2 separate regions of the Homo sapiens genome follow, and region 1 is linked to region 2. A link means that fine-mapping ties the variant in region 2 to the expression of a gene that starts in the linked region. Tissue or cell type: prefrontal cortex. Region 2 holds a variant in brackets; the other region holds the start of a gene. All regions are shown on one strand. Distances are between the middles of the regions.

What was found. PIP is the estimated chance that this variant, and not a neighbour inherited with it, causes the effect.
Region 1: ALDH1A3 starts here. The variant in region 2 is the best candidate, but not a certain one, in a credible set for the expression of ALDH1A3 in prefrontal cortex (CommonMind, PIP 0.86).

The regions. Positions count from the first base shown.
Region 1 is chr15:100,873,723-100,883,748 of GRCh38, reverse strand. ALDH1A3 (aldehyde dehydrogenase 1 family member A3) reads right to left here and starts at 3,918. Exons shown (of 13, transcript NM_000693.4): 1 at 3,743-3,918. The coding sequence starts at 3,841. It overlaps LOC124903575 (collagen alpha-1(I) chain-like), which reads left to right and starts at 3,946. Exons shown (of 1, transcript XM_047433433.1): 1 at 3,946-4,803. The coding sequence starts at 3,946. The coding sequence ends at 4,728. GCAWKR (gastric cancer associated WDR5 and KAT2A binding lncRNA) reads right to left here. Exons shown (of 4, transcript NR_160703.1): 4 at 6,871-9,926. RefSeq lists an enhancer at 2,872-3,386 and a silencer at 3,878-3,997.
Region 2 is chr15:100,775,933-100,785,958 of GRCh38, reverse strand. All of the region lies in intron 2 of LOC105371024 (a long non-coding RNA gene), which reads right to left. It overlaps LOC440313 (protein enabled homolog), which reads left to right and starts at 1,474. Exons shown (of 1, transcript XR_001751715.2): 1 at 1,474-1,998. RefSeq lists an enhancer at 3,260-3,889. The variant T/A (reference allele first, on the strand shown) is at 3,622.

The sequences.
Region 1 (10,026 bases), 98 kb before region 2:
CAAACCACCATGGCACATGTTTACCTATGTAACAAACCTGCACATCCTGCACATGTACCCCAGAACTTAAAAGTTGATAGAATGTTAAAAAAAAAAAAAACCCACAAAAACCTCTGAAGCTCATAGTGAGGAAGCCTGGTCTGAGTCGGTTGGGGACCAAGCACAGGAGGCAGACTCTGGCTGGGCAGGTGAGCAGAGACCAGCTGCCCCCCAGTTTGGAATCCAGAACTGAGAGCATCGGTCACCATTGGGATTTGCCTGTCTGGCTTCTGGAAGCTTAGCGTCTCCAATGTGAGGCCAGGCCCCCAGGGAAGCGCACCAGGAAAAGGCCAGGCTACAATTACAGGTTTATTCTTCCAGCTGAAACTAAATCCAAGAGTTCACTTTTGCCATCCAGCAAGTCATCACTTGGTAACAGCGAGAAATTAATAACTGAGGAAGAAGAGTTAAGTTAGTGCGGGGAGGAAAGTGCAGCCAGGAAGAGGGGCCCATTTGTAGAAAGATGAAATTTCGTGGGTTAGATAATAGAGACTGTCAGTGAAAATTGCTGATTCTAGGTCCTTCCTGGTATCAACTCCAAGGGGGAGGGAAAATGAGAAGGTGGCAGAAGAGAATATAAATAAGGGGGCTGAAAACAGATTACAATGATCGGATGTCTGCTATACTGCTATACTTCATCTCCAAGCATGCTCCTCCAAAAAAAATTACTGTTTGTTCATGACATTGATCTGTAACCAGCAACCTTAAAAAAAAATCAGACTGTTTGACTCTAACCATATTTTCCCATCACTATGTTTTTAATTTTGTAAAATCTTTTACTTTATACCACACTACAGTAGTAAGTAATCTTGTAAGTGGTTTCTACTGTTGATTTTTCTCTCCATTAAAACAAAACAAAAGCACAAATATAAGGAAAGGGTATATAAATATGGTCTACTGATTATGCTGGCTGTATTGTTTTGAACTCCAAATCAGGGTAAAGGGTCTAGAAGGAATTGTTGTCTTTGATTTGTGGATTAGCATACAACAAACCTTATAGAGGTATAGCATTAAGCTACATTGAGCTGTAGACCTGGTTCACATTTTACAAAAGGAACAGAATGACATGGAAGCAGGACGGAGCTGTAAGGTGTCTCAGGCAGAGGTGAAGATGACAGTCATACAAGTGAATCCTATTGATGCCGATTTCCCGTAACTTCCATCTGACAACAGGCCACTCAGCTAAACTCAAAAAGAATATGTTTTCAGAAAAGGAGATTTGGGGGAATTTTATTTTTCATAAGAGAGATAATAAAAACCGGTGTTTTAAAAATCAGAAAACTTTGAAGAGAATCCCTGCTACTGGAAGAAATTTTATAAGGAAAGAAAGAGGCCCTCTAAATTAGAAGGGACTTCTATCCTCTGAGATCTGTGTGGGGACCCTGGAGGGGCTCTCAGCTCTCCAGAATCACACAGCATGACCCTAGAGAATGAAATGTTAACATGTGAGGACAAATGAAGGGGCTTTGACAAAGTCATCCTGAAAGTTGGACCACCCTGGGAAATGGCACTGCCGGGGCTAGGGCTCAGATGGACCAACTCTGGTGTGTGCCCCATTATCGAGAAGCACCATGAGTCAATTTTGGAAAATAGCAGACCACTGCTGGCTCCCATGCTCCACCGTCTGCTCTCCTGCCAGGCCACCCACCTGCCGGGCCACTCGCCCACTCTGGGCCTCAGTCCTGCACTTCAGTTTATCCCGCTCCTTCCCTCGGCAGGCACTCTTGGTGGCCTCACTCTCGGCCGCCTCTCCAGTCCAGTCTCCCTGAGGACTGTGCCAGGGCACTGGTTGGCCACCCTCAGCCACACAAGCTGCCTGGGTCCACAACTGCTATGGGGAGGTCTCTGCAGAGATGGGCCAGGAGCCAGGACAGAGCAGGCAGCAGCACAGTCCCCCAACGGGTGAGGAGCCAGCAGCCGGTGTCAGGCAGTTGGGGCCTTTATCGCCTGGGAGACCACTCAAGATCCCAGCACTCCAGGCCGATCCACCAGCTTCCCTCAGCCTCATTCCTGCACTGGTTCCCTTTAACTGGCAAAGGTTGCGCACCCACCAAGACAACAGGCAACCATTGCTCTGTGAATTGTCTAAGGTCTCCATAAGGGCTACATCTACACTTTAAAAGTGTCCTAAAAATCATAGAGAAAGAGGTAAACTTTTTGTATGTGGTCAGATTGCTGATAGGACTCAAAAACATAAAAAGTAAAAGGACCATAATACATTTACTGTCTGGTTTCTATATACAGTATTTTGAAATCCTGTACAACCAAAAGAAAACAAACAACCTCCCCACTTAACCATCAGTAGCAGCAGCCAAGCACCTGGGGTTAGGGTCTTACAAAATTCGGGTACCATTTTCACTCTTCCCAGAATTCGTGTTGGAATTTTCACTCTGAAGCTGATATTACAAATAAAACTACATTAAGAATAATTTCCAGCGTTTAGTTTACAGCGACGTGTCTTTGTTGATTACAGAGCCTTCTGAAAACAGTTAATTTAAATGTCTTGTGATCAGAGGCTCAGCCGACATTGGGAATTAAGTGCCAAGAGACCCAAATCTGAAGGCCACACATAGTGCCCTGCAACTTTCTCCGCTTGATTAAAATTCTTTGAGAAAGATAATTGCTACTTCTTAAAGTAAAACGGATGAGGAAATTCTCTAAGTGCGGTGTCAGCTGGAGTTGGGGGCTATGGGTAAAAGCAAAAATCAAGAGAAGCCAAAGGTGGGGAAAGTTAAGGCAATGGCTCTCGGCCTGGCCTGTGCCTCTAAAGTGCCCCAGCACCGGCCCACGACAGACGCGCACGCCAGACAGCCTGGGGGTGTCCTCCATCGGGTCGCGCTCCCGGACCCGGGTCTCTCGGCCCTCCTCAGCCCCAGCTCAGAGGCCTCGGAGGCCTCACCATCTTCTTTTATTCCTTTCTGCCCCGGGCAGGTAATCTCGCCGTTCTGCCAACGCTGTAGCCTCCCAGCCCACAGAGCGAGGAGGCAGAGAACCGTGCGCTTCTGCGGCCTCGCGACCCACCGCTTCCCAAAGGCCCAGGTCTGCGACCTTCCGGAGCGCGCGCCTTGTGTGTAAACACCGGGACCTCTGGGCTCCGGGGAGGTTTCGTCAGTAAGCGAGCACCTTCCTACTCCTCCTCGTTCTGCTGCTGAGCCGGGTATAAACTAAGCACGGAAGGCGCCCGCTGCGCTTTGCTCGGAGGACCCGCTTCCCCAGTCTTCCAACTGCAGCTCCGCCATCTGCCTCCCGGACTCTCTCTTGGCGCTCTCGGACCCTCCGACCCTCTCAAAGCCAGACTCGTCCACCCTGGAAATCATCGCAGGGGTTTTTGGGGAGGGAGCTCCCCAAAACCAGCGCGCTCCGAGTCAACGCGGCGCGCACCTCCACTCGCGATCAAAGCGGGCAGCGCAGGGACACGTCGGGGCCTCGCAGGGATGCGGGCGGCCCGGCCCCGCGCGGGCGCTGGACGGCCTCGGTTTCCCGGCTTCGAGGCTCACAGCGCCGAGCCCCGCCGCCTGCGATCCCGCCCGAGACGTCCCGCGAAAGGTGCGGTTTCTGGAGAGCCGCGCCCGGGCAGGGAGGCTCGGGTCTCGGCGGCGCCCGGCGGACCCCCGGCCCGCTGCTCCCTCGCCCCCGCCGCCCCGAGTCTGGCTGCCCAGCGCAGGGGCCCGCGGCCGTCGGGTGGGAGGGGCGCCCGCCTCACCTTGGTGAACTTGACCTCCAGGTTGCGGATGGGGCGCGGCAGGGCCGGCGGCTTCCTGTCCGGCTGCCCGTTTTCCACGGCCCCGTTAGCGGTGGCCATGGCTCCTCCGCGCTCCCTGGCCCGAGGCGCCCTAGTCTGCGGCGCACCGGCTCGGCCCGGACACTGCGCAGCCCGCTCCCGGGGTGGCAGCTCCCCGCCGCTTTATGCAGCGCCCCACGCCTCCCGCCCGAGGGGGCCGCCTAATTGGCTGCGGGACCGGAGGAAGGGAGGGCGGGCTGCGGGAGGGAGGAGAGGGGAGGGCGGCCGGCCCGCCTCACCCCGCCCCGCCCGCCGCCCCTGCGGGAGCCCGAGCGCCGGCGGCTCCACCCGCGTGCCGCGGACCGTCCCGGCGCCCGCGCCGCGCGCTCTCTCGCCCCGGAGGCTGCCTGTGGACGAGCTCCCCGAGGAGCCGCCGGGCCCCGGAAGTCGCAGGGCTGGGACACCCGACCCGGCAGGGAGCTGAGCCGCGGGGCCACGGCGCCCCGCTGCCTCCCCGAAGTCGGGCGGGCTCCCCGCGCGGCACATGCAGCCCACTCCCAGCCGCCGCACGGCGCGCTCGCCCGACTTCGGCCGGCTCGCGGCGCTCGGGAATGCGCGCTCTCCGCCGGGCCCTGCGCCGCGCCCGGGTCGGGGCTCCTGGCGGGGCCGCCCCGCGTCGCTGCGCACGTGCCCTGCTCTTGGGTCCAGCCGCCCGATCCCCGCTAGCAGGACAGACGCCCGCTGCGCCCCACCCTGCCCGAGCGCGGACAGCCGGCGGGCGCACCCCGGCCCAGCCGGCCTGGAGTCTCCCCGGGGCCCTGGGGCTTCGCCCGCGGTGGGGCAGAAGGCGAAAGCAAAGCGCCGGACCCGGGCGGCTCTCCGCCGAGGAGCCCTGGCGCCGCTGGGCCTCTGACCTTCGCAGGCGCACACCGCCTTCCATCCCAGAGCCCGGGGGGCAATTGATCTGATTTTTTAAATGCATAAATTATACCTCGATTAAAAAATGATAATTAAAAAAAAGCACATGAGACCTTTGCTGCTAATCGTTTTAAGAGTTTAAATTCTTGTCGCGCATTACTTCCCAGGAGGGGGAGGTAAGTCTAGCTCCTCTCCTTTTGCGATTTGGGAAACGCTCCATCAACTCCCAGGACTTGACCCAGGCCCCATCTGAGACACGGAAGCGGCTTCTGATGCATGCCATTCCTCAGGTCGCTGGAACAAAGACCGGAGGCACGGACTCCTGACAAAAGCTGTGCTTTAATCCTCAGATAGGCTCAGCCCCTTCAGTTCATCTCTTTCTGTAGGTAACCCCAAGTAATCAACAATGGGGAGGGGTCTCCTTATTTTCCTGTTTTGAGGCCTCCGTGTCCATCTCTCTGTCCCCTGGTGTCCTTCTGGATAGAGCTGGATAGAGGGGTAAGTTTTGAAGCTTTTGGAAACCCCACATCTGACCCTTACCCTGGGGTTGTGGAAAGGTCTTGTGCTGTTATGGCCTGGAGTGCACAGCTGAGGCCGGGGAAAGGGGATAATGGACCCTCGAGCGGGGCAGCCTTGACCGATATCGGCTGGCTAACACTGGCGAGTCTGAGCAATGCCAGCTCTTTCCTCAGCTGCTTCTGCAAATCCGGGGCTCCCTGCCCTCTTGGCTGGCCCCATGGCTCCCACTCAGATCTCCTGAAAACATCTGGGCAGATGTGCTATGCCACGGCCCCCGGCTGGGTGCTGAGCCCTAGCGTTTGGGTGCCTGAGCCCAAGAGGACCGTCAGGGAGTAGTGACAAACCCCTCCTGCATGGATGGAGGCCAGGGGCCCAAGGCCAGTGTGTGCAGCAGGCCCCAGGAAGCTGCAACTAGAGATGCTTTACAAACTGAACTCCCATCCTGAGACTTTATCGGGGGTCCTTGATGGTTGAAATTATGTCACTGCCAGGATTTTAAAAAAAAATCTGAAATAAAATTTATAGAGGAAACTGTGTTAATTAAATAATTGCTGGATTGATGGGGGAGGCAAATGGGGTTGAGCTTAGAACTCTGCTCCTTTAGGGAAGATAGTCGAGCCTGTTTGGTCAAAGATAGACAGTCACCACTTTGTTGGCTATGAAGTCAGGAATGAAAGCCACCTCACCTCACACTCAGACATCCTTGTGACCCGAGGCGTCTGGTCTCAGGAGCCAGTTGCAAAGATGCCGACTGGCTCACCTGCAGCTCCTCCGTTTGATACCCACGTGATCCTGGGAGCCTGAGATCAGACTGGAGCACTCAGCCATAGACTTTGTCACAGTAGGTGGCTCCCAGAGAGCAGGTCAGGAGGATGGGCCTAGCTCTGGGCTTGTCCAGACAAGCAGGCTCTACCTCTGCTCCCATCGGCAGGAGGGGTGGAGGCAAATGCGCTTCTCCCCATTTTACGGGTGAGTAAACAGAGGCGTGCAGACACTTGCCCCAGACATCACCATCGGTCGAGAAACTAAGGCCAGACTGTGTGAGAGTGGGTGGTGCAGTGCAGGGAGGAGGGGCTTCTCTGACATTCCTCTGACCTATTCTTTCAAGCAGGTGAGCACCTATGACCCAGGGTGGTCCCATGTCACTGGGGCTGCATAGGGCATAGTGAAGACACGAAGGGCTTTGAAGGTCAAAAATGGCGGGAGTATCCCTTTTCGTTGTGCCTTTCCTAGGAACCATATCTCCTAGCTGTGGCCTCAGAGGCAGGGACCACAGGGGCCGGGAAGGAGGAAGATTTATTTTTGCTCACAGTGGGTTGCTGGGTGTTTGGTTCAGTGATGAGGTGCCTGAGCATCGGAGATGGCAGAGGCCCAGCCCCTTCTGCTCACATCCCTGAACTGAGTCCCAGCTATGCACCCTTGGATGGGATATTGATCTCTCTGAACTTCAGTGTTCTTTTCCATAATCTCCTTCCCACTTACTTTACAGTGTTTGGGGAGGCTTAAGCAAGATAAGGCTCTCAAGAAGTGCTACCTACATACCAGCTCTTCATTTTCATATTCTTCCTGGAGACTGGTTCCTCTTTGCTGGCTTTTCTTCTTGGAAGTCAGCAAGTTCCCCCCACTTGTCTCTGGCTTGCGGGAGCCCCCCAAGTCAACAGTCCCTCTGCTCATTTCATTGTGAAAAAGTATTTATTCATTTTGTTTCCAGCTCTGTGGTGCTGCCGTTGTCTGCTGTTTGTCTTGTTGGTGCATCAAATGAGCTGAGTCCAAGACATGTCATGTTGCAGGCTTGTTTGCGGATGACCACTCAGTAAAAAGAAGCATGAATAAAAGACAAAGATAAAACAGAAGTCAGGTGGTCACCCCCTAAGTTCAACCTCATTCCATTTCTAAACCCATAATCATCTGTGGGTGATGTTGAGGTCTGAAGCAAACGTAGTGAATAATGATGATGACGTTGATGAACCCCCTACTGTGTTTCATGTTATTTCAGATCTGGTACCTGAGCCTTGTGGAGAGACGCCCAGGTCTGCTGAGTACCCCTTGTGTCCCCGCAGCCTCTGGCCAGCTGCAGAGCTGCCCCTCCCACCCAGTCTACTCACCTCCCTCAGTGTTGTGGAGTTGAGGCAGGGGCCTGAGTCTTGGGTGTGCCTTCTGAACCCTTCCTAGACAGCCAGGCCCCTGGGCTGAGGGTAGTTCTTTGATGTAGGGAAGCCCGGTCACCCCACTGTGCAGCACTCAGGCCAGTGCTTGGGTGACTCAGGGAGGCGACCTAACTTCAGGTTTTTTGGCTACAAAATGGGGGTGGCATGTGCCCCTGTGGTGAGGGAGGGCTGACTTCACTGTGAGCACCTCCTTGCTGGTATCAATGAAGTCAATTCCATGTTTCATGTGAGTCATTCGGTATCGCCTCAACCTGACTAGAATAGGCAACTACTTACCTTTGAAGCTCACCGTATATTAAGACCCATCAAATACTACAACATTGTTCTGTCCTCAAGGAACACACAAACAAATCTTTTCCCTGCGAGTTTCCATCAGTGATTGATGATATCGAGGCAGGAGCACCCCAGGTTGGAGAAAGAGGAGCTGATAACACCCAAACAAGGTGAAGAGAAAGGAGCTGCCAGCCCACCACACAGCTCCACCAGCTGCTTTCTCTCCAGCCCTGCCAGTCCTTTCTGGCCCTGGGAAAGGCCTTCACTACACAATGTTAGGCTGAGGCAAATCAGTCTTGGACCAGGCAGAAGCCAACGGAGAACTCATTACATAAAAGCAAAGAGACATCATGGTATTTGTGGGTCAGGCCCCAGTGAAGCCACACACACATGCACACACACATACACACATACACATGCATGCACACATGCACACACACACATGCACACACACACAGCCTGCCAGTTCACAGCTGCCAGAGATTTCCCCTTGGTCTGTCTTCCAGTGGATGAGAGTTGTGGCCCAGCCAGGAGAGAACATGGAGGGTAAGGTCGAGAGAGTTGGTTGAGTACCCAATAGTTCTCTCCTTTCTTGCCAGTGGAATCCCATGTTATCGAGGGTGGTAGTGGGCTTTGATAAACATATTTCCCAGCCTCTCTTGCAGAAGTATAAGCTGAAGTTTTTGGTTTGGGCTTCCAAAGAAGCTCTTAGGCATGGTGGCTTATGCCTGTAATCCCAGCACTTTGGGAGGTCGAAGTGGGAGGATCACTTGAGGCCAGGAGTTCAGGACCAAAGAAACTCTTTACATGGGACTGAGTCAGCTGAAAGGCTCTTCTTCCTTTCTGCTGCCTGGAACACAGACATGAGAGCTGGGTCTCCAGCAGCCATCATGTAACCATAATGCAATTCTGAAATGCAAGTTCCATGGTAAGGAAGTTGGAAGAGACACTTAGGAAGAACGTGGGTCCCTGATGGCCCTGGAACCAGCCCTTCATCCCTGGATATTTTTTCTTGGATTTTTTTTTCATGTGAGAAAAAGGAAAATCCCTATATTATTAAAGCCCACCATTTGGGTTTTCTGTTATATGTGGCCAACTTAATCCTAAGCAGCATAGCTGGCTGTTGGCCATCGCTATGACAAGAAGAGCAAAATTTTAACTCAAGTGGAATAATGATCTCATTTTTGTATAAACGGAGCAGCACAGACATAAAACTCTTATCACCATCTCTGTTATTTTGACCTTAATCAAATAACCTTGATGCGCTGTGCTCAGGTTTATAGTATGTTAAAAAACAAAGACAAAAACTAGCTCTGGGATGGAATAAATGGAGTAAGCTCACTGATTCATTGGATGATGAGGTCCTACTAGGGAAGAGAATCTCTTTGGTACAAAAGCCCCGTGGAGCTGCCATCCTCTGGTGCTCATAGGTGTTAGTTGTGTCCTCACATCTACTGAGGAAGGCACCAACACTCAGAAAGATTGAGTGACTGAAAAAGTCCCTGGGTCACCCAGACCTGGAAGATACTTGGTCAGGCCAGCACTCAAATCAGGCAGCAAGAAGTCAGACTTTGTTTTAAAGTAAACAAAATGTCACTCCATATAATCAGTGAATTTTGCTCATAATACTTCACACCCCTCAATACCACCACCGGCAAGTCTCAGTGATGTGAGAAGTTGTTTGCAGACTTTCCAATCTCCTTCAAAATTCAAGAATTCTGAATTTTGAACCACACTTCTTGGGGTTTCAGTTCAATTTACTCCAGACAAAACATACTTCCTGGTTAAAAGGAAAATTGTTTAAGGGGTCTTACAAAAGAAAGGGTTCAGGAAGATTCTTGGACACAAAGTGGTTCTTGCTAAATAATTGTCCTGAGATAAGCCTAAGAGAATCAGAAACACACACATTGAATTTCCCTTGAAATTCACATGGGTATACCACTGTCGGGAAAGGGGGCTTAGCAACATGCATTTTGCCAAACCCAAAATGTTTGAAAAATGATTTGAGTATGTGCACGTTTGGCAAATCACTCTTGGGTTCATCTATCCTAGCCCCACAGTGACAAGACTTTCCCCCTGCCCTTCATCCGGGACCCCCTGTAAAGGAGCATTAGTTACCCAAGAATCTTCCCTTGGATTTTTGCCATGCTGTGAGTCCTGGGGTGGAGACCAAGGTGGGGGATGGAGGGGTTGTCAGAATCTGTGTTCTCATGGGAATGCCTGGGGATCCTCTTGCAGTTGTGTCTTTGTGTAATGAGAGTTACTCAGGCAGCACTCTTGAGGTTCCCCTGTAATCAGAAAGCGTCTATAAAGCACATCATGTCTTATAACATGTTTAGGCAGACAGGAAGCCTGTTATGTATGTAGCAGAGAGGAAACCTATTTATG
Region 2 (10,026 bases):
ACAAAAGGTGTTTCGAATTAGTTTTTGAAACTAAAAGTATTTCAAGAAATTCACTCCATGAATGAGTCATGACATGGCATAGTGGGAAGAACAACTTCCTGGGGCCAAGAAAACCTGAGCTGAAAGTCAGTAGTGCCTGTGAGCAGCCCCTGGACCTGGGGCAACTCACTGACCTCTCTGAGCCCAGCTTCTTAGGGGCTTGTGAGCATCGTCCCCTGCCAGGGCCTCTGCACACCGCCTGGTCTGGAACAGGGACACCTTGGGTGCTCCTCCCTCCAAGCCTTCCCACCGCCCTGGTGCACAAGGCACCTACAGCTCTGGAGCTCTCAGCTACAGCTGAGGTGCTCTGGGCTCTCCTGCGGGGCCGAGGGGCTTGTGACGCTGGGCCTCTTCCTACAGTCACTCATATCCACGTGGAATGAGGTTTCCAATATCCATAGGCAAATATGATCCACCCACCTGCCTGCCTACCTTCTGAAGTCACCATTTCCCTGACATAATTGCATCTTACAGATCTTACAGCTGTTTCCTGTGGCCCACTTGATGGTTGGTGGCACCTTGGCATGTCCACCAGGTAGCACCTCATGCTGAACATCACAGCTGGCCCCAGGCAGGCCCTTCCCTTCCTCCTCACTCTGTCTACATCACTGGATCAGGGAAGCTGGCTTCATTCAACCCTTCCTTCTGTAGGTCCTGAAAGGTGAGGTGATGGCTGCTTCTCCACTCCCCACCCCTCTTTGTTGTGTAAGTGTGATTGGTCACACATCACAGAAAACTCATATAGCAGATATTTGCCACGTAACGTAGAATTTGAAAGCACATCTATGCCATAGGAAACGGCTAATTGCCTTGACTCAGGAGTGCCCCCAAGAGCCTGTCTCATTGGGAATCCTTCAGCTGTCCCAAGAGGAAACCATTGCGTTGACTTTTGTGACAGTCATGTACTTGGTTTTAATGATGTTTATCACTTACTTACAAGTTCTTAAGCACCAGAGTTGAGTTGGGCCTCTTTCTGCCCCTGGGATCACTGGGCATGTCCTCGTCAGTGCCTGATTTCTTTTGCTCAGTGTGTTTGGGGGATCCTTCTATTTCATTGCCTGGTCTTCGCTCATTTCCTATTGCAGTTCCGTGCATGGCCCATTACATGAACACAACCATTGTTTTCTCTCTTCCATTGTTTTCTCTCTTCTGCTATTGATGGACTCGGGGTTGCTTCTGATCTTTGGCTCTTAGGAAGGTTGCCCCATAAACATCCTCTTACCTGTCTCCAGGTGCACCTGTGCACAGTGCCTGCCAGAAAAGTACCTGGGGGTGGAACTGAGTTTCTTCACTTTGGCAGGTGCTGCAGACGGTCAGCTTCTCTTCTCACCAGCAGTGGGAGAGCCCCCTGTGCTCCAGCCCTCCCCAGAGCTGGGGATCATCAGACCTGAGAGCCACAGGTCCTCGTCCATGTGTAGCTGACCAGATGTGAGGATGCTCTGCCCATGTTTGGGGACAGCTTCTTTTCCTCTCCCCATCTGGCTCCCCGCTGCTCCCTGTGTGCCCACCCCACCTGCCCCGGTGTTTGGCTGGCCTCCTCTTCCTGCTGAGCCAGTGCCTCTAAGGAGCTGCCAGCAGTGGGGATGCGCCAGGCCTCCTCCAGTTCTCCAGGGCGCAGGCTTTCTGCTGCGACCATCCCGGGTCTCATCGAGCTCTGCACCCTGCACCCGCAGCGCTGACCTCACGGAGTCTGCCCCTCTGCTGCAGCTTGCCCTGGCCTCCTGCCTGCCTCTTTCTGATCCTGTCGTCTTTTGCCTCCTTGGCCTCCCTCCTGGCCTTGCTGCTGTCTCCCTTCCTCAGCTTGTCTTTTGGGGAATCTCTAACCTTCCAGAACTCCCTCTGCCCATATGGAGCCCCGATCTGGGCAGCACCACCCCTTTGCAAAACTCCCCTCCGTCCACACCTCCCTGGGGCTTGCAGGCACCATCCAAGGAACAGCAGGACTCACCATCTCAGTGAGCCAGGGCAGGGTAGCCCGGGTCTGAGGCAGCGTGGGATTGGGAGTCTGAGCCATGGCGTGGGCTATGGGACCTGGGCCAGGCAGCAAATGTCTCTAAGCTCTCCTGTTCTCATCCATAAAAGAACATAATTATAAGGATTCAGTGAGAGAATATCCACGGCAGTGTTTGGGAGTGATGTGCTACCTGGCTCAGAAGTCACTGTGAACATCATTGTCCCTTTCTGTAATGTAGCTTTCTGTCATGCATCTAGCTAGTATGTAAGGAGAACCTGGTGCACACAGGCTGTTACTTCACCTTATCTTGTTGTGGAGTGCTCGTAACTGCCCGCCAGGAGGTAGGCACCGTGTTCCTCTCTGCTTTACAGAAGAGGAAACCGAGGCCTAGGAAGGGGGCTGGCCTTGGCTGAGATGTCACCCCTGATGACAGGCAAAGCTGGGAATCTCATCTCTGTGGCCAGACTCCCAGCACCATCATGCACGGCTTTCTGGAGCAAAGGCAGAATGATGAGGAGATCACAGGCACGGAGGCAGGAGTGTGAAAGCATCAGAATATGCCACCCCAAAGGATGCCGCTTTGACATAAGGATTATTTTGAGCTGAAGGCAACTGAGAAACAGCCAGATGCAGAAAAAGCTCTCTACTCCCCATGCTCCCATCTGCCTCAAGGGAGGGCAGAAATTTATCTTTTTTTTTTTTTGAGACAGAGTCTCACTCTGTCACCCAGGCTGGAGTGCAGTGGAGCAATCTTGGCTCACTGCAATTTCAGCCTCCTCGGTTCAAGAGATCCTCATGCCTCAGATCCCCAAGTAGCTGGGATGACAAGCATGCACCACCGCACTCGGCTAATTTTTGTATTTTTAGTAGAGACGGGGTTTCGCCGTGTTGGCCAGGCTGGTCTTGAACTCCTGACTTCCTCCTTCAACACCTGCCTCGGCCTCCCAAAGTGCTGGGATTACAGGCATGAGCCACGGTGCCTGGCCCAGAAATTCATTTTTGTGAAGGATTCCTCCTCCCCTCTCCTGTACCAGAAAGAAGCCACAACTCATCACCGGAGATGGCACCAACCTGAATAGTCATAACCTTTAACAACCCTTATCTTCCATTATTTCCCCCGTATGTATCCCTTTCCACATTTGCCATCCCTAGAAGCTCAAAACATTTTTCCTTTGTCTTGTCATGTCTCCACAATTTTTTTATTTTTTTTGAAACAGAGTCTTGCTCTGTCACCCAGGCTGGAGTGCAGTGACACGATCTCGACTCACTGCAACCTCCGCCTCCCGGGTTCAAGTGATTCTCCAGCCTCAGCCTCCTGAGTAGCTGGGATTACAGGCATGTGCCACCATGCCCAGATAATTTTTGTATTTTTAGTAGAGATGGGGTTTCACCATGTTGGTCAGGCTTCTCTCAATCTCCTGACCTCGTGATCCTCCCGCCTTGGCCTCCCAAAGTGCTGGGATTACAGACATGAGCCACCATGCTGGCCACATCTCCACAATTTATGGCTCTTTGTTAAGATGTTACACAGGCTCCAAATGCTAACCACCTCAGAGAGTCACATTTCTTTGTGAATGCCCACGCATATGTATATAATTAAATCTGTTCTTTTCTCTTGTTAATTGCCT[T/A]TTGTCAGTTTAATTTGCAGGACCTCAGTCACTGAACATAAGAAGGTAGAAGACACATTTTTTTTTCTCCCTCACAAAGCCAGGACCCCTGAGGAGGGTCCCAGGCCCTGCTCATAGCACACCATGCCTAAGAGGGGACCAGCTCCAGGGAACAGCAGGGTAACCCCCCCCATGATATGGAATGCTGTGGGATGTGCCAGGGTGTGGCCCCCAGCCAGGGTGAGCAAGCGGGTCAGCTCCCTCTGGCCCTTGGAGGCCTCAGTATGCCTTGCAGCCCGAGTCCTGCCTGTCCCTCCTTGCAGCCCGAGTCCTGCCTGTCCCTCCTTGCAGCCCGAGTCCTGCCTGTCCCTCCTTGCAGCCCGAGTCCTGCCTGTCCCTCCTTGCAGCCCGAGTCCTGCCTGTCCCTCCTTGCAGCCCTGGCTGCAGAAAGGGTGAACCTGCCTTGAGGGCACTGCCTGCGCCTTCCCAGGGAGCTCCTCTGGCCTCCCCTCTCCATTCGCCCACTCCTCCGTGGTTACGTTTCGTGAAAACAGATGCTTTCCAGGAGAGTCACAGTTCATTAGGGAGATGGAGAGCAGGGATCCCAGGCTGCCACTGTGACCAGAATGGAGAGGCCTTCCCAGCACAGCAATCCCCTGGGCTGGTGCAGTGCCTGGCCCATCAGAGGGGCTGAATGGGCAGGGGCAGGGCAGACAGAGATTGCCCTACAGAGGTGACCTTTTGTTACTAGCTTGAGAGTTGCTTTCCTCTATCTCTTTAGATAAGTTATTTGGTAGATGCTGTTACTGATGTGTGCACTGTGGGCTTCAGCAAAGACAGAAACAGATCCCTGAGAACCCCTGGGAACAGCTGCAGTGGTGAGTGGCCACTCCCAGCAGTCCTCTCTCAGAGGACAGAGGGGCTGCACAGAGGAGGAAAGGAGGGGTGTGGGTGTTTCTCCCCACGCCTTTTGCTTCCAGAGAGAGGCCTCTGGGATGCAGGATCTCCCCAGGTGTTGCTTCTTCAGCTGGGAGCTGTTGACACCCACCAGGGACTGGAAGATCCCTGGACAAAACAAAGGTGAGAAAGAAGCCCTGGAAGGGCCCGGGGGAGAGGGATGTGCCAAGAGAGAAAGATGGGGTTTCCTGGGGGCACCTGGACCCGCCTGGTCCCTGTACTCTGGGCCCTGCCCTGGCCCGTCACTACTGACCTGCTCTCCCAAACGCCAATCACACCATCCACACAGAATCACTGGCTAAATGAGGTTCATGGTTCTGTGTGGACACTTCCACATCCACCTTTTCACTAAATTCAAACGGTGGCTCTTGCCTTTATTTTTTAAACAGCCTTACTGAGGTATAATTGACATAGAACAAGCCGTGCCTATCTGAAGTGTACAATTTGGTAGCTTTGACATAGGTAGACCCCCAGGAAACCATCACCATGGTCAAGATAGTGAGCGCATTCATCAGCCCAAGCATTATTTATGTTTTTAAACTAACATAAATTAAGTTTATCCTTAAACAGACTGGTATGGACACAAATTGACAGGAAATAGAAACCGAAGGCATGAGCCTCTCTTCTGTGGAGGGGATGGTTGGGGACGGTCACCACTTCCACGCATGCCTGTGGGGACTCCTGCAGGCAACCCACTCTGGTTTTCTGGAAAGCAGGAGAACATCCCAGAAATGCTACACAGAGTTCCTGAGGGCAGGTCTGCTGCCGGCTGAGGCAGAACCTGAATGTGGGCACGCCAGGCAGAGGGGATGGCCTGTCACCCTCTTCAGAAGGCGCTTCATGGTAGGAAGGTAAAGGGCAGCTCTCGGGTGTGGACTTAAAATCCTAGTCAGGCCTGAAGTAAAATTTGGGAAAGATTCCTGTCCTTCTGCCCATTCCCAAGGCAACTGCCTTCTCCTCAGCACCTACTGGCATAGGGCATGCCCAACTCGGTACCCACCGGGTGCAGGCCAGAAACTCACACGCTCAACTGAGTTGTCAGGATGGGGCCTTGGCTCGTGGGCGGGCCTTGATCATCTCTGGTTTCTCTTGCTGGGATTCATTTATTTACTTATTTATTGCCAAAAGCTGAATACCTGGATTCCTAAGTGCGATCTCCTAATTCTTACAGTTGGCAATGTAATGATTTTTTAAACACGTCAGGGGAGGCAGGTCTAAGGGCCCCCAAACTACAGGTGTCCGTCTCGAGGCATTTGCCCTATCGGGTGGCTCCAGATTGGCTCTTTCTTCACCCCCCAACAGATTCCCCTTGCATTTCACTTCATGTCAACGAACTTCCGCTGAGCAAGTGTGGCTGTCACGTCCAGGGCCCTGGGCTGGGGAAGCTGCAGAGGTGATTGGCCATCCCTGTCCGTGGGAAGACTTGCTAGCTGAAGTGCGCCACAGAAATGCATCCTAGTCCATGGGCTTGGGGAAGAGAAGGCAATTAGTCTACTGGGGTGCTCCCAGAAGGCTGCAGGAAGGAAGGAGCACTGGAGCTGAGAAAGATGATGAAGATCCACAGGTCAGCAGCGAGGAAGAAGAGGAGAGCTGCAGAGGTGGAGAGTGCAAGGTGTGTCCCAGGAGCGACAGGTGGTTTGCCTATGGGGCCAGACTGGGGACCCCAGGGATGCTGGGGTGCTGGGAGAAGAATGATTTGGAAAAAAGGAGATTCATGTTCTCCTGGTCTCTCTCCCTCTCTGAGGCCTCCTAAGGCATTGCCTCTGGGCCTCTTGGGGGTTCTGTGGAACTTGGATTATGGTCCTAGAAACCTAGAAATAAGAGTGGCCACAAAGATTCTGTCGCTGAGACCCATCCAATGCAGGACCCCCGTCTCCTACAGCACTAATTTCATCCACATCCCCTTCCCACCTCTCCATCAAATAGGCCAGATCCCCAGCGTCCCTTCTTATAGAAATGGGAGGTGGGGACTCTTGAGTTTTTCCCAGCGTAAGAATAAAAAAATGAGCTGCCAAAAGTTGCCTGGAATCAGAACTCGGGAGCGCACTGGAGCTGGGAGAGAAGAAATGGATACAGACAAGCTTCCTCTGGCCAGCTGTGCCTACACTCTATAAAAAAGTGTCAGATTCAATCACCCGGGTTTGGGGGTTGTTGGCGCCAAACATCTGGATCTTTGGACGGGCCCCTAAGACGCCAGGATGTTGCACTTCCCACCTGGAAGTCTGCCGTCATCTAAGTGCAGCCCTGACTCGGGAGAGGGCGAGCACCTGGCCAGGCCCGGCCCACTTCCTCCGAGGGGCCTCGGCCCCCTCTCCCTGCAGATGGACAGGACACACGTGTTTGCAGGACCTCTGGGGTGGGGGTGGGGAGGAGGCAGGGCCTGTCTAGCCTGTTCTGGGTCTTTCCTGGCTCTGAAGCAGCCCTGTGCCCACAACCAGAACTTACCGCGGGTGGCTGCACCCTGGGTTGACTCAGGCCGACCGGCCTGGCCCCTGGGAAGTGGACGCGATGCTACGTAGGCTTTGCTTATGAAGGAAGAAATCTACTTACATCCATCTGACTCTCTCCTCTCACCAAGAATAAGCCACATAGTTCATTCCAAGGGTCTGAATTCCCAGAGGTGCTCTGTGTGTGTGTGTAGGCTTACTACTTCAAAAGGAGGCAAAACGATGCCAGCCCTTCAAAATACTTTCCAGCAATACAGTGACCTGAATTAGAGCCTGTCATCCCCACTAATTTGCTAGTAAATAAAGATGTTTCTGACCATCTAAAGGAGGTGGCCAGGGAAAGCCAACCAATTTTTGTGTGACGTAATGCCCCGCCCTCTCCTGGCTGGTGTCAAGGGCACTGCCCAGGTGTAAGTGCAGTAGTTGGCAGGAAATGTCTTGAGAATATGAAGCTGCATCCTAGTTCCTCCGTCGGTTAAACGTGGAGTTACCATGTGCCCAGCAATCCCACTCCTGGGATATACCCGAGACAAATGAGAATAGACGTCCACCCAGAAACCTGTTCGTGAATGCTCACAGCAGCACTGTTCACAACAGCGAAAAGTGGAAGCAACCTAGACGCCACCCGATGATGAATGAAGAAATGAAATAGGGTCCATCCATATCATGCAGTGTTATTTGGCAGTAAGAAGGAACGAAGTACCAATACATCCTGCAGCATGAATGGGCCTTGAAAGCACGATGGCAAGTGAAGGAAGCCAGACACAGAATGATCAATATTGTATGATTCCAATTATGTAAAATGCCCAGAATAGGCAAATCCATAGAAATAAAAAACAATTCATAGTTTCCTAAGGCTGGGGGCAGAGAGGAATGAGGAGTGACTGCTAATGGCTATGAGGTTTGTTTTTGTAGTGATGGAATGTTCTCTAATTTGGTGATGGATGTACAATTCCGTGAATAGACTAAAAGCCACTGGATTGTGCACTTTCAATGGGTAAATTGAATGTTATGTGAATTATACCACAATAAAATTGTTCTTTTAAAAGGCAAAAAAGTTGCACTCTCAACAAATTCCAGGATTCAGACTTTTTAAATTCCCAGATAGTTGCCCACCCAATCAGCCCACATAGTTGAGGGGATTTTGTTGTTGTTGTTTTTGATACGGAGTCTCGCTCTGTCACCCAGGCTGGAGTGCAGTGGCACAGTCTCAGCTGACTGCAACCTCCGCCTCCCGGGTTCAAGGGACTCTCCTGCCTCAGCCTCCTGAGTAGCAGGGATTACAGATGCGTGCCACCACTCCCAGCTAATTTTTTGTATTTTTAGTAGAGACGGGGTTTCACCATGTTGGCCAGGGTGGTCTCAAGCTCCTGACCTTGTGATCCGTCCACCTCGGCCTCCCAAAGTGCTGGGATTACAGGTGTGAGCCACCGCGCCTGACTGAGAGGTTTTAATAGGGTTAAATAATGGACTTATGTTTTGTTGGTTGGCATCCAATATTTGGAATTGTGGCAAGATAGGACTGATCTCATCACCGTGCTCCCAGGGAGATAACAGTGGGATATGATTTTCCTTGACATAAAAGGCTGAGCTATGTTCTTACGATTTTAGAGGAAGGACTGAATGTTTATTACCCCAGAATCCAGTATTTGGACCCGTGAAACAAAGAATGATAGCTCATTTTGTTTTTATAGAGTCGGGGTATCACTCTGTTGTTCTTGCTGGAGTACATGGGTGCAATCGTGGCTCACTGCAACCTCGAAGTCCGGGGCTGAAATGATATTCCTGTCTCAGCCTGCCGATTAGCTGGGACTACAGTTGCATGCCACCATGCCTGACTCATTAAAAAAAAAATTGTAGAAATGTGGTCTTGCTATGTTGCCCAGGCTGCTCCCAAACTCCTGGCCTCAAGTGATCCTCCTGTCTCAGCCTCCCAGGTTGCTGGGACTATAGGCATAAGCCACTGCATGTGGTAGGATCTATGAAATTAAAAAAGTGATAGCTTGTTGTTTTGCTGTGTGGCCTTGGGCAAATGACCTAGCCTCTCCGGTTTGTAGTTTCTTCCTTTATAAAATGGGGATTAAAATGGTACCATTTCTTAGGGTTCTATGAGGATTAAATAGGTAAAATATTGAAACCACTAGCCCGGGCATGGTGGCTCATTCCTGTAATCCAAGCACTTTGGGAGGCTGAGGCGGGCAGATCGCCTGAGGTCAGGAGTTCGAGACCAGCCTGGCCAACATGGTAAAACCCCATCTCAACTAAAAATACAAAAAAAAAAAAAAAAAAAAATTAGCTGAGCATGGTGGCAGGCGCCTGTAATTCCAGCTACATGGGAGGCTGAGGCAGGAGAATTGCTTGAACCAGGGAGGCAGAGGTTGCAGTGAGCCGAGACCGCACCACTGCACTCCAGCTTGGGCAATGAGAATGAAACTCCGTCTCAAAAAAAAAAAAAAAAATTAAGCCACTAAAAATAATGTCCAGCGTATTACACAATGCATTTACTACTATTTGCTTTCTGCTTCTGGGCCTAAGGACTTGGTCTCCACTGCCCGATGTCTTCCCCTTAAACTTTCAAATTGCTCACCACCTCACTCTGATAGGGTCCCTGGTCACCTATCACAAGGCACGATGCCTTGCCTGACCACACGAGCTAAGAGGGCCACTCCATCCCACTACTGTTTGTCTTCACCTCACTGTTATGACCTGAAATCGCTATGTCTGTGTTTGCTTGTGTGTTTACTATTTTGCTTTTCCATGAGCATGCACACTGCCTTGTTCATGCATTGAAACTTGCCTGGGCCAGAGGCATTTGCTGAAGGAAAGAATGAATCAAAGAAGGGTGTCCCCTGTTCATGGAGCATGTCCCGGAGCTCTGTGCCCCCAACCTCAGAAGACTTAAGGAGGCCTAATCTGAGCAGTTAGAAGGACCTTCAGCAATTGTGTGTGTCCGGGGAGGCTCTCAGTCCTAGGAGCCCTGGAAATACAAAGTCCAGAAGTGAGAAGCCAGAAAAGTACTATC